Linked DNA regions of Homo sapiens. The protein of the gene in region 2 interacts with the protein of the main gene of each other region in a biochemical or structural test. Each region holds a gene or a part of one and is shown on either strand. Other genes may lie near its edges. The genes, in order: H1-0, RNF168 and ATF6.

Region 1 (3,750 bases), on a different chromosome or scaffold from region 2:
AATAAGAGAAAGACAACTGTACAGGTTTTTTCTCCCAGCTCCCGGGTGTGAAACTAAGTACTAGCCCTAGATATGTATATATACACAAACACACACATGCACACAGATCTAGCTCTGTAAAACTACTTAGCAAATCCCAAATCGACTGCAGTAAGTCTTACTATCCACTGCCCGCCCACTCCCCCTCCCCCTCCCGCAGCTACAACTACTTATAATAAAGGACTCAAAAAGAGATCGGGAGGTTTTAAGTGGCCGCAGCCCCACCAAACCAAGCAAAGACACCTCTTGTACAGGAGGAACAAAAATCCAGAGGAAAAGAAAAGTCTTCCTAGGACACAATCCATCGATTGCGTGGAAAAACCTAAGTTTCAACAGGGCACACTGAGGCACTTGGCTGACTCCCCACCCTTCCCCTGAAGTTTTCACTCCGGTTTAACAAGAGAATTTGCTGAAGCCACAAAGATCCCCCAATGGCTACATCCTAGCTGACTGGGAGAAACTATGGCTTCTCCCATCCAGCTGTCACTTGGACCCCACTCCCCTTCCCTAAGAAAATAGGGAGGCCGAAAGCGCAAACTAACAAAAATGAGAAGGAAACTGGGTTTGGGCCCCCACTGCTCACCACTGGGAGGTGGAAGTCAGCCCGGTGGCGGTTTTTTTCCCCCTCCTTCCTTTGCCGGCTGGCTGCTCCCTACCACCTCTCTCCTGCTGGCCAAAGGTTCTGAAACTCTCACAACGGGTGCCCAACTCAAAGAAAACTCACTCACCCTAAAGATATTCCTGCTAACCTCACAATTCCTGGGTTCCCTCTCATCTAGCCAGAACAAACTGCCTTGTGTCTTCTCCCCACCCACATCTACCTTCATGGCAAACAAGCCAACAAAACACACAAGCCCCCCCCGCAAATCCCTAACCCCGTAAGTAGGTTAATAGCAAAACAAAATATAAGTACATTCTCATCATTAGATTGGTTGTTGCTGTCCTTGCACAACTGGTTAAGGAAAAATGAATTATTCTGTAATTTCTGAAGAATCCAAATCCTGTCTCTTATAAAGTCAGAACAGAAGGGGGCAAAAGGTGGTGGTGAGCATCAAGAGAGAAAAAAGGAGAAAATTATTTACAGAAAATAGGAGACAGGAGGGAGTGTCCGCAAGAAAAGACTTCATTGTCACTTCTTCTTGCCGGCCCTCTTGGCACTGGACTTTGCTTTGGGTTTCACTGGTTTGGCCTTTTTGGGCTTGGATGCCTTGACCGGCTTGGCTTTGACAGTCTTGGGTTTTTTGGCTTTCTTGGGCGTGGCAGCCAGCTTCTTCTTGGCCTTCTTGACCGGGGTGGCTTTGGGTTTCTTGGTTGGGGCTTTGGAGGCAGCCTTCTTGGGCTTGGATGCCTTCTTTGGCGTGGCTACCTTCTTGATTTCCTTCTTGGTCTTCTTGAAGGCCACTGACTTCTTGGGTTCGTCGCTCTTGGCTAGCCGGAAGGACCCCGAGGCCCCCACCCCTTTGGTCTGCTTGAGGACACCGGTGGTGACCAGGCGCTTGATGGACAACTTGATCTGCGAGTCAGCGTTCTCACCCACCTTGTAGTGGCTCTTGATATACTTCTGAATGGACTGGCGCGAGGAGCCAGCGCGGTTCTTCTCGGCCTGGATGGCAGCCACGATCATGTCTGAATACTTGGGGTGGTCTGTGGACTTCTTGGAGGCCTTGGCCCGCTTGGGCTTGGCCGCAGGGGCGGACGTGGAATTCTCGGTCATGGTGGCCTGTCTGGTCCGGCTGTTGAAGGCGCCTTCCAAAGGGCCAGCCCTCGTCGGAGGCTGAGCAAAGCCTGCCTCGGGATCTGCTCCTGAGCCCCTGACTACCGGGCCAGTCTGGAGTGCGGCTCCCGGGGATGCGAGCGAGGAGTCGCTGCTTTTCCTCCCCGGCTCGGGTGTCGGGAGAGCTCGCCGAGCCGGCTTTGCGAGGCCCAGCCCCGCCGGTCTGTCGCTTGGTCTCGGCACCGGGCTCGGGCTCTGCCTCTGCCTCTGCCTCTGCCTCCGCCTCCTCTGCCTCCCTTTTCCCAGCTCCGCGTCTGGCGCTTGGGCGGCGCATCCGGGTATTTAGCGGCGGCGGGCGGACCGCGGTGAGGACAGGGCTGCTGGCTGCCTGCTCCCGGCCCGGAATGGCGCTGCGCCGCCGCCATCTGTGTTTCTTCCGCCGAGCAAATCCGACCTTTCCCCCCGGCCCGGGCCTTCCTGCTCCCCGCCGCCGCCCTGGGCCGCTGCCTGGCTCCCTGGGCTTCCCCGCCGGGCGGCCCGCTGGCCCGGCCGCCGCCCCCCGCGCCCGCCACGCACCCCAAACGGCGCCGAGGACCGCTGGTGTGCCGGCACATTTCCCCTTTGCGGGGGGCTGGCTCTGCGGGGCTAGGGAGCCTCGGTGCGGGAAACCCCCCGTAGCAAAGCTCTCCCCTGAGGCTACCGGGGGCTCTGCTCCCGGCCCGCTGCGGGGTCCCCTAGCCCGGTGGAGCTGCCGGAAAGCGGCCCCAACTAACACACGCGGCCCCGAGCTGGGCGACTCCCAGCCGGGCCGAGCCGGGACAGGGGGGAGGGGTCGCTCCCCCGGGGTCCGGTCACCTCTCGGGGGTCACCCCGCCACCGGTCCCTCCACACCTCTACCCCCTCTGTCCATGGGGCCCCCAAGGAAACTTTCCCTGAAAGAGTTGGAAGGGTACTTTCAAACTTTGTCCCTTCCCCCTCCTCTGCCGTCTCTCCCCCAGCGCGCCCCCCGACCTCTGCCTTGAGGTTCCCTCCTGAGGCCGAACCCCCAGTGCTGCCCGGACCCTCTGAGAGATGAGGAGGGCCTCCCGGGTGGCCTCTTCTCCTCAAAGACCCCTACATCTCCCATATACCCTAATCGGGAATTCATTTGTGTGCTTCTCTTAGCCTGGAAGTTTTGGGGTGTCAGAGACAGAACTCGCTGCCCCCCATCCGTGAGGCCCAGCCTGGGGGTTCAGTCCCCGTCCCAAGGCTCCTTGAAGGCAATGTGGGGGCGGGGGAGGGCGGTCCACAATGGAGAAGCTGCCCCAGAAGCTCTAACCAGGGACGGTCCGGGGGGCCCCTGTAATGAGGAGAGGCCCTGAGTGCTTTGGGGACTTGGGAAAGCGGGGCGCTAGGGTAGAGGTCGAGGAGGGGGTTATGTCCCTTGGGTTGTGACCTGTCCTCGGAAAGTGTGGAGTTGTTTAGAGAGCCGTGGCCGCGACCACCGCCATTTTGCTGGGAAGATGCGATGTCTTTGTTAAAATGCACACAGATTTTCCCGTGCTGCTTGGCAGGTGTAGACGAGGCGGACACGGGGCGCCACTGTCTGTAGGGAGTTCTGAAGCTCGAGGGGCTTTAGGGGCCCAGAGGCCAGCAGGAGAGACCTCAGAGACCCTAGGACCCCTTGTCTGCGGCCGACCTCCTACTCACGTGCCGGGTCCGCTTGGCAGCGGCCCTGGGCTGAGATTCTGCGACGTTTGCTCCCTGGGCCCCTCTCCCACAACCCCGCTTTTATTCCCTAAGCATAGAGGCCGGTCACTGTTCACTTAAACAATACCCTGGGAGTGGGAGTTTGTTGCTGGTCAAAATGATGAACGCATCCCGGTATGGTCCAAGAGCTGTTTGCAGACACAGTGGGCTACTGGGGAGGGGTAAAGGGGAGGGGTTCGAGGGTTTTGATGTTGGGGACGGGATCGTAGCTGCGTGGGTGTGGGAGGGCTCCTACTGGACCTGGGAGT
Region 2 (3,750 bases):
TGAGTACTGGCGACACTGATATTGTCACATCTTTTTTTTTTTTTAATAGTACCTCCCTCATTTAACATTCTCTTCTCCTAAGCTTCCTCCCACCTCAAATACAAAATTTCAACAAATCTTGGAAGGAGATGAGTTACCTGCACATATTTCCTCAGTTGAACCAGAAGTCCTTATGTATTTTTCAAGTCTAGACTGTGGTTTTTAAACTTTTCCAACTGTGAGTTACCATGGGAAAGCTGATGTTTGCGTAAAGCCACCAACTCCACCTGGCACCTGACCCTGGAGGGGTGTTGTGGTGAAACTCAATCACGCCACCTTTGTCTACCTGACTCATGCATTTTGTGTAATAGAGAAGAAATGACAAATTGTAAACTCTTTCAGTGAAGATAAGCCTATCTGGGACCCATTTTTTTCATCTGAATTTAAACCAAGAGAAAGAGGAATCCAATGGTTCACTTTGAGAAAACTGGAAATCCTGAGGCAGTAAGATAAAAGTATGAATCTGCCACAGTAAGTGGCTGAGTGAGAAGCCAAGAGGAAGCTGTGTGAGTAGCTCTCTCCTTTTCAATTTACCTCAACCTCAGACTATTTTCATACAAAGTTCACGGACCAAACTTTGAGAATCAGTAGTAGTCTATATGAACAGAAAACACTGGCATACAGTAGGAGGTCAACAAATAATTCATAGTCATGTTCACTTACTTCTGAATATCTCCAGTGTTTCTTTGTTTGTTCTTACTTTTCTTTTCAGACTTGGGTGTAACTGGATCAGATTTTCTGGAATTCAAGGGAGAAGCCGAGATACTTCCCTCACAGAAATTGTTCTTCAACAATAGAAAAAGCATAACAGACATTATGAGAGAGAACTTTATGATAAAATAAGCTATTAATTTGACTAATTCAGAAATCCATAGCATTTTTCAGAAATTATAGTTATATTTAAATTCTGTACATCTCTTGAAGAATATTGACCATGCAAAAATCAGAATAAACTATGTTCATCCAAGTTGGTCTAAATTAATTACATTTTTACTGTACATCAAGCACAAAATAAGGCATAATACTAACCTCATTAGCTGATAATTCCTGTTGATCTTTCTTTCCTTTTTTTTTTTTTTTTTGAGACGCAGTCTCGCTCTGTTGCCCAGGCTGGAGTGCAGTGGCGCGATCTCGGCTCACTGCAAGCTCCACCCCCGCAGGTTCATGCCATTCTCCTGCCTCAGCCTCCTGAGTAGCTGGGACTACCGGCGCCCTCCACCATGCCCGGCTAATTTTTTGTATTTTTTTTAGTAGAGATGGGGTTTCACTGTGTTAGCCAGGATGGTCTCGATTTCCTGACCTCATGATCTGCCTGCCTCGGCCTCCCAAAGTGCTGGGATTACAGGCATGAGGCACCGCGCCCGGCCTTTTTTTTTTTTTTTTTTTTTTTTTTAAGACAGGGTCTCACTCTGTCGCCGAGGCTGGAGTGCAGTGTAGCAATCATGGCTCCTTGCAACCTTGACCTCCCAGGTTCAAGTGATCCTCCCACCTTCACCTCCCAAGTAGCTAGGACTACAGGCATGAGCCACCAGGCTTGGTTAGGTGGGTTGTTTTTGTTTTATTTTGAGACAGAGTCTTGCTCTGTCATCCAGGCTGGACTGCAGTGGAGTGATCATAGCTCACTGTAGCCTCAACCTCCTGGGCTCAGGCAATCCTCCCATCTTAGCTTCTCGAGTAGCTAGGACACAGGCATGTGCCACCATGCCCAGCTACTTTTTTTTAAATGCTTTGTAAAGATGAGGTCTCACTATGTTGCCCAGGCTGGTCTCCAACTATTGGAATCAAGTGATTCCCCCACCACAGCCTTCCAAAGTGTTCGGATTATAGGTCTGTGCCACTGTGCCCAGCCTGTTGATTTTTCTAATAAATACTTTTATATAATTACTTTTATCTATATGGACATATTCAGAGAGCTGTGGATATACCCAAAAGAATAGTTTTATGTAATAATATTTTAGTTCTGGACTTTAAGGGCGTATTAATAAAAATCACAAATATTTACTTGCTGTACCAGTCTCGTAAGTTTCTTACTACCCTAATGGAAAAGTTCATATATGGTGATGGTGAATATTTGGCCTTAAACCACCAAACTTTCATAAATAAATAGAAAATTATTCTAGGTTGGGCATGGTGGTTCATGCCTGTAATCCCAGCACTTTGGGAGGCTGAGGTGGGTGGATCACATGAGGCCAGGAGTTCAAGACCAGCCTGGCCAACATGGTGAAACCCCATCGGCACTAAAAATACAAAAATTAACAGGATGTGGTGGCGGCACCTGTAATCCCAGATACTCTGGAGGCTGAGGCAGGAGCATCGCTTGAACCGGGAGTTGAGGTTGCACTACTGCACTCCAGCCTGGGTGACAGAGTGAGACTCTTGTCTCAAAAAAAAAAAAAGTTAAAAAAATTATTCTACAGTATCAATAAATCTACTCTTATAATACCATGGGAAAACTAGATATACTTCTTCCCTATTCCATTTATTATTCCATTGGTCAATGACTTTTATTTAGTTTCCTGATTGTGTATTTCTAAAGCGATTCTACTTAAAAAAGACACATAAAAAGGGGCATATAACCCAAAATTTGGGTACATTATTATTAATGGTAGGCCTCTCAAAAAAGAAAAAAATTCCCAATTCTGCGTATACTCATTTTGCTAAGTGTATATACATATATATTTTTTTATTCTATTGAACTTCCCATGATTCAATGGTAAGTGTATGTTAAGATATTCGTTGTTTGAAAGCTGAAGAATTGTTTTCACAGGCTCTCAAACCTGAATGTTTCACACTTCCCTACATGCCTCTGAAGATTGTATTCCCTAGGTCCCATCCCTAGAGACTCTGACTTAATAGATTTGGAGTAAATATGAGAGTTTGTATTTCAACAGCATTCCCAGGTTACTCTGCCAGGCTCGTTCAAACCACTGGGCCCCACAGTACCCTCTGATCTTAAAGTATGTGTTTTATCACACACCATTTAATTCATTTTCTTACAGGCAGCAATTTAACTACAGGAAGCAGAACATCCAAGTTTAATACATTATCTAAAAATTTAATGTGCCTTACTTTCAAAATGTGATTTACATCCATAAAATGGAATATTATTCCACTCTTTAAAAGAATTAGATTGACTACATGTAGTAATATGAAAAATCTCTACGATGTTATCAAGTGGAAAAAATGTAAGCAGCAAAACAGTGTGATTGCTTTATATAATCCTTTTTAGGTCAATAAAGAAAAAAAGCTTTTTTTTTTGAGATGGTCTTCCAGGTTGAAGTGCAGTGGCGAGATCAGCTCACTGTAACCTCAAACTCCTGGGCTCAAGGGATCCTCCTGCCTCAGCCCCTCCCAGCAGGTGGAGCTCCAGGCACGCACCATCACACTCGGCTCATTATTAATTTTTCTGAAGAAACAGGGTCTCACTTTGTTGCCCAGGCTGGTCTCAAACTCCTGGGCTCAAGCGATCCTCTCGCCTCAGCTTCCCAATGTACTGGGATTACAGGCCCGAGCCATCGCACCCTGGCAAGAAAAAAGTTGTAAGAAACTGTTAATAGTGGTTACCTTTGGGGATAGAGACTGATATAAATGGAAAAGGAACGGGAGTGGAGAGGTGGAAGAAGGAAAAAGGAAGCTTTCATTCTTCACTGAATAGCTTTCCTACATATAAAAAAGTTGTTAAACAACTTGCGGTGGCTCACGCCACAAACC
Region 3 (3,750 bases), on a different chromosome or scaffold from region 2:
TGTGATGTTAGCTTTGAAGTATAAAGCATATTAAAATGAATTGATGCTTTTTAAAAATAAACATTTCCTCATTCTTAGGAAATACATGGTGAAGTGTTTAGGAGTTTCATATTATCTGCAGCCCACTTTCAGATGTGAAAAAGGAGGAAAGTGTGGGTAATATTAAGATATAAAGTGAATGTGGCACGATGTTAACAGTTGGTAAATCTAGATAAGGAAAACGCACGTTTATCAGTGTACTGATCTTTTGACTTTTCTGTGGTTAAAAAAATAACTGAAGGTGGGTTGATAAATATACTCGTATATTTATAGAACATTCCAAAAGAATCCATAAGAAACTGTTAGCATCAGTTACCCCAAAGTATCCTAAAACCTATTGCCTATTTCTATATCCTTTGCACCAGTCCCACACTATTAGATTTCCCTCAACAGTAGTAAATAATGGTAGTTACTATTTTTAGTGTACTCAACAAACTTTCCCACCTCACCTCCACCTTGCCCATTTATTTATTCATTTACTCCTTATAAGTTTAATAAGATCAGACACAGTCACTGGGTTTAGCAATGTGGAAATCAGTAGTGCCCTTAAAAACAGCAGTTTCAGGCCAGGCATGATGGCTCACGCCTGTAATCCCAGCACTTTGGAAGGCCGAGGCGGGTGGATCACATGAGGTCGGGAGTTTGAGACCAGCCTGGCCAGCATGGTGAAACCCCATCTCTACTAAAAATACAAAAATTAGTGGCTGACGCCTGTAATCTCAGCACTTTGGGAGGCCAAGGTGGGCAGGCGGATCATGAGGTCAGGAGATCAAGACCATCCCGGCTAACACGGTGAAACCCCGTCTCTACTAAAAATACAAAAAAAAATTTAGCCAGGTGTGGTAGCAGGTGCCTGTAGTCCCAGCTACTCGGAAGGCTGAGGCAGAAGAATGGCGTGAACCTGGGAGGTGGAGCTTGCAGTGAGCCGAGTGAGCCACTGCACTCCAGCCTGGGTAACAGAGAGAGACTCCGTCTCAAAAAAAAAAAAATACAAAAAGTAGCCGGGCATGGTGGCAGGCGCCTGTAATCTCAGCTACTCAGGAAGCTGAGGCGGGAATCGCTTGAATCCAGGAGGTGGAGGTTACAGTGAGCCAAGATCGTGCCATTGCACTCTAGCCTGGGCAACAGAGCAAGACTCTGTCTCAAAAAAAAAAAAAAAAAAAAAACAGGAGTTTCAGTGGAGTGGTGGCACCTGACTGGACTGGGTTCAAGAGACAAGGAGAAATAAAAAACTAGAGTCAGTGAACGTGGACATTTTTTAAAAGGAATTCTGCTGTAACATACAGTAGAGAAATGCAGTAACAGCAAGAGGTGAAGTAACATCTGAAGAGAGTTTTGAGTTTGTTGGTTTTGTTTTTTTTTTTTTTAACTCTAGCTAGAGTACTATCTAGATATAGAAACAGTACTTCTAGGAGAAACAACAACATGTTCATTTACTGACAGAGATGATCTAGTAGAGAGGGGAAATGCTGATGCAGGAAACAGGAGGAAGAATAGCTTGAGCAATATTCTTGAACAAAACAGGAAGAATCTAAAGCACATATGGAAGGACTGGCTCTAGCTAGGAGCAAGAAGCCACTCATTCTCACCAACAAAAGAGAAAGCAAACATGTTGATAGGTGGGTAAATGAGGTAGTGGGAGACTGTAGAAGTTCTCTTCTGATTCAAAGGATGGGAGAGATGTTGGAGGTTTGAAGATAGAAGAAACTTTATAAAGCAATCATCAGAATGGGACAGTGAGAGGACCAGGGAAATATGATTGGTCTGGCAACACTTAAATTGAGACCAGTCAGGACAGTTGAAGTGTTTTCTTCAGCTGATTCAGCTATACTAGGACAGGCATGAAGTGGGCAAAACTGAATTTAACTAATAGGTTTATCCAAGAGAAACCTACCAGAAAAGAGACAGACATGAATATGAAAGGTGAAAGGAAGGAAATAGTGACAATGACTGTCCATGGTATTTAAACTGGGTAAGAGGGACGTGATGAACTGAAGAGAATGAGAGACACTGGAAACATGGCAAAATCTCAGAAGGACTGAACAACTATTGAAACTGGAATACTAAAGGAAGTAAGCTGGTAAAACAGGCGAAGGCAGTCAGAGCAGGATGTTTGAAAGTGAGATGTTATTGGTAGTGACAAGACTTAGGCTTATGATCAGGAAAGCAAATGGCTGAGACTGGGTAAAAGGTAAGATCAGTGATAAAGAGGAGGTCCAGAAAATGACAGGTCAGTGTATCTGAAGGATCTTCTCTAAGGATACTGAAATCATCCAAGAATCATGATGGAAGTAATGGTGAAGAAAGTAACAGTAAGCTAGTGGCAAAATGTTTTCAAAAAGCCAAAAAGAAGCCAGGCATGGTGGCATGTGTCTGTAGTCCCAGCTACTCGGGAGGCTGAGGCAGGAGGATCCTTTGACCCCAGGGGTCTGAAGATGCAGTGAGCTGTGATTGCTCCACCGCATACTCCAGCTCCAACCTGGGCAAGAGAACAAGACCCCATCTCTAAAAGAAAAAAAGAAAAGTGAAAGAGAGTGATCCAGGAATCAGGAGAGGTAGAGGATGGGATATTGTGACAAAATGAGATTTCAACTTAGATATTTTTAGGGAGGAGGAAAGGAGAATAGCAGTGAAGGACAATGGAGACACCTATCCCACCAACAGAGGCCCTATGGTGAAAAGGTTTTGAGAATAAAATTAGCAACCGTTCACCGGGGCATTACGGGAAGTTGTGTCATCCAGGAGCACCAGATTTTGATTTAGTGCTAGAAAGCCAAGAGAACCTTCACAGAAGAGACTGAAGACATAAACGAAACCACAGTGGCAGACGAAAGCTTCTGATCTTGATACACATATCTTAAGTACAGCTGACAGAAGAATAAAGAGAAGGAAAAAGGAGAAAGGAGAAAGGAGGAGGAGGAGGGAAGAAAGAAGAAAGCAGAATAAAGCAGCTTTTGCACAAATTCAAGCAAGAGTAAAAGAGAAGAGAGAAGGAGAGAGGAGGGTAAAACATACAGACGGCAAATAAGCATATGAAAAGATGCTCAACATCATATGTCATCAGGAAACTGCAAATTAAAACATACCACTACACACCTATTAGAATGACTAAAATCCAAAGTACTGGCAACACCAAATGTTAGCAAGGATGTGGAGCATCAAAAATGCTCATTCATTGCTAGCGGGAATGCAAAATGGTATAGCCACTTTGGAAGACAGTTTGGCAATTTCTTACAAAACAAACAAAAAACATGTTCTTACCACACAATCCAGCAATTGTGCTCCTTGATATTTACCCAAACAATTGGAAAATGCATGTCCACACAAAAACCTGCACACAAATGTTTTCAGCAGTTTTATATATAATTGCCAAAAGTTGGAAGCAACCAAGATGTGCTTCAATAGGTAAGTGGATAAGCAAACTGTGAATTTATGGCCTAAACTGTGTCCTCCAAAATTCGTATGTTGAAGCCCTAACCCCAAATATTACTATATCGAGAGATACAGTCTTTAGGAGGTAATTAAAGTTAAATGAGGTCATTAAAGTGGGGCACTAATCTGATAGGACTGTGGCCTTATAAGAAGAAGAAGATTCTCTCTCTCAGTGCCATGTGAGGACACAAGAAGAAGGCAGCCATGTGCATGCAAGCCAGGAAGAGAGCCCTAACCAGAACCTGAAGGTGCGGCCATCTTGATCTTGAACTCTAACCT

What was found.
Region 1: the proteins of RNF168 (region 2) and H1-0 form a complex in vitro, tested with the Homo sapiens proteins (one study listed by IntAct).
Region 3: of the proteins of RNF168 (region 2) and ATF6, one has a biochemical effect on the other in vitro, tested with the Homo sapiens proteins (one study listed by BioGRID).

The regions. Positions count from the first base shown.
Region 1 is NC_000022.11:37,803,548-37,807,297, reverse strand, and holds the start of H1-0 (histone H1.0), read right to left. Parts: upstream 2,070-3,750; 5' UTR 1,754-2,069; coding exon 1,169-1,753; 3' UTR 1-1,168. UniProt on the Homo sapiens protein: Histones H1 are necessary for the condensation of nucleosome chains into higher-order structures. The histones H1.0 are found in cells that are in terminal stages of differentiation or that have low rates of cell division.
Region 2 is NC_000003.12:196,483,068-196,486,817, forward strand, and holds part of RNF168 (E3 ubiquitin-protein ligase RNF168), read right to left. Parts: intron 825-3,750; coding exon 703-824; intron 1-702. UniProt on the Homo sapiens protein: E3 ubiquitin-protein ligase required for accumulation of repair proteins to sites of DNA damage. Acts with UBE2N/UBC13 to amplify the RNF8-dependent histone ubiquitination.
Region 3 is NC_000001.11:161,770,419-161,774,168, reverse strand, and holds part of ATF6 (cyclic AMP-dependent transcription factor ATF-6 alpha), read right to left. Parts: exon of another isoform or gene 1,554-3,750; intron 1-1,553.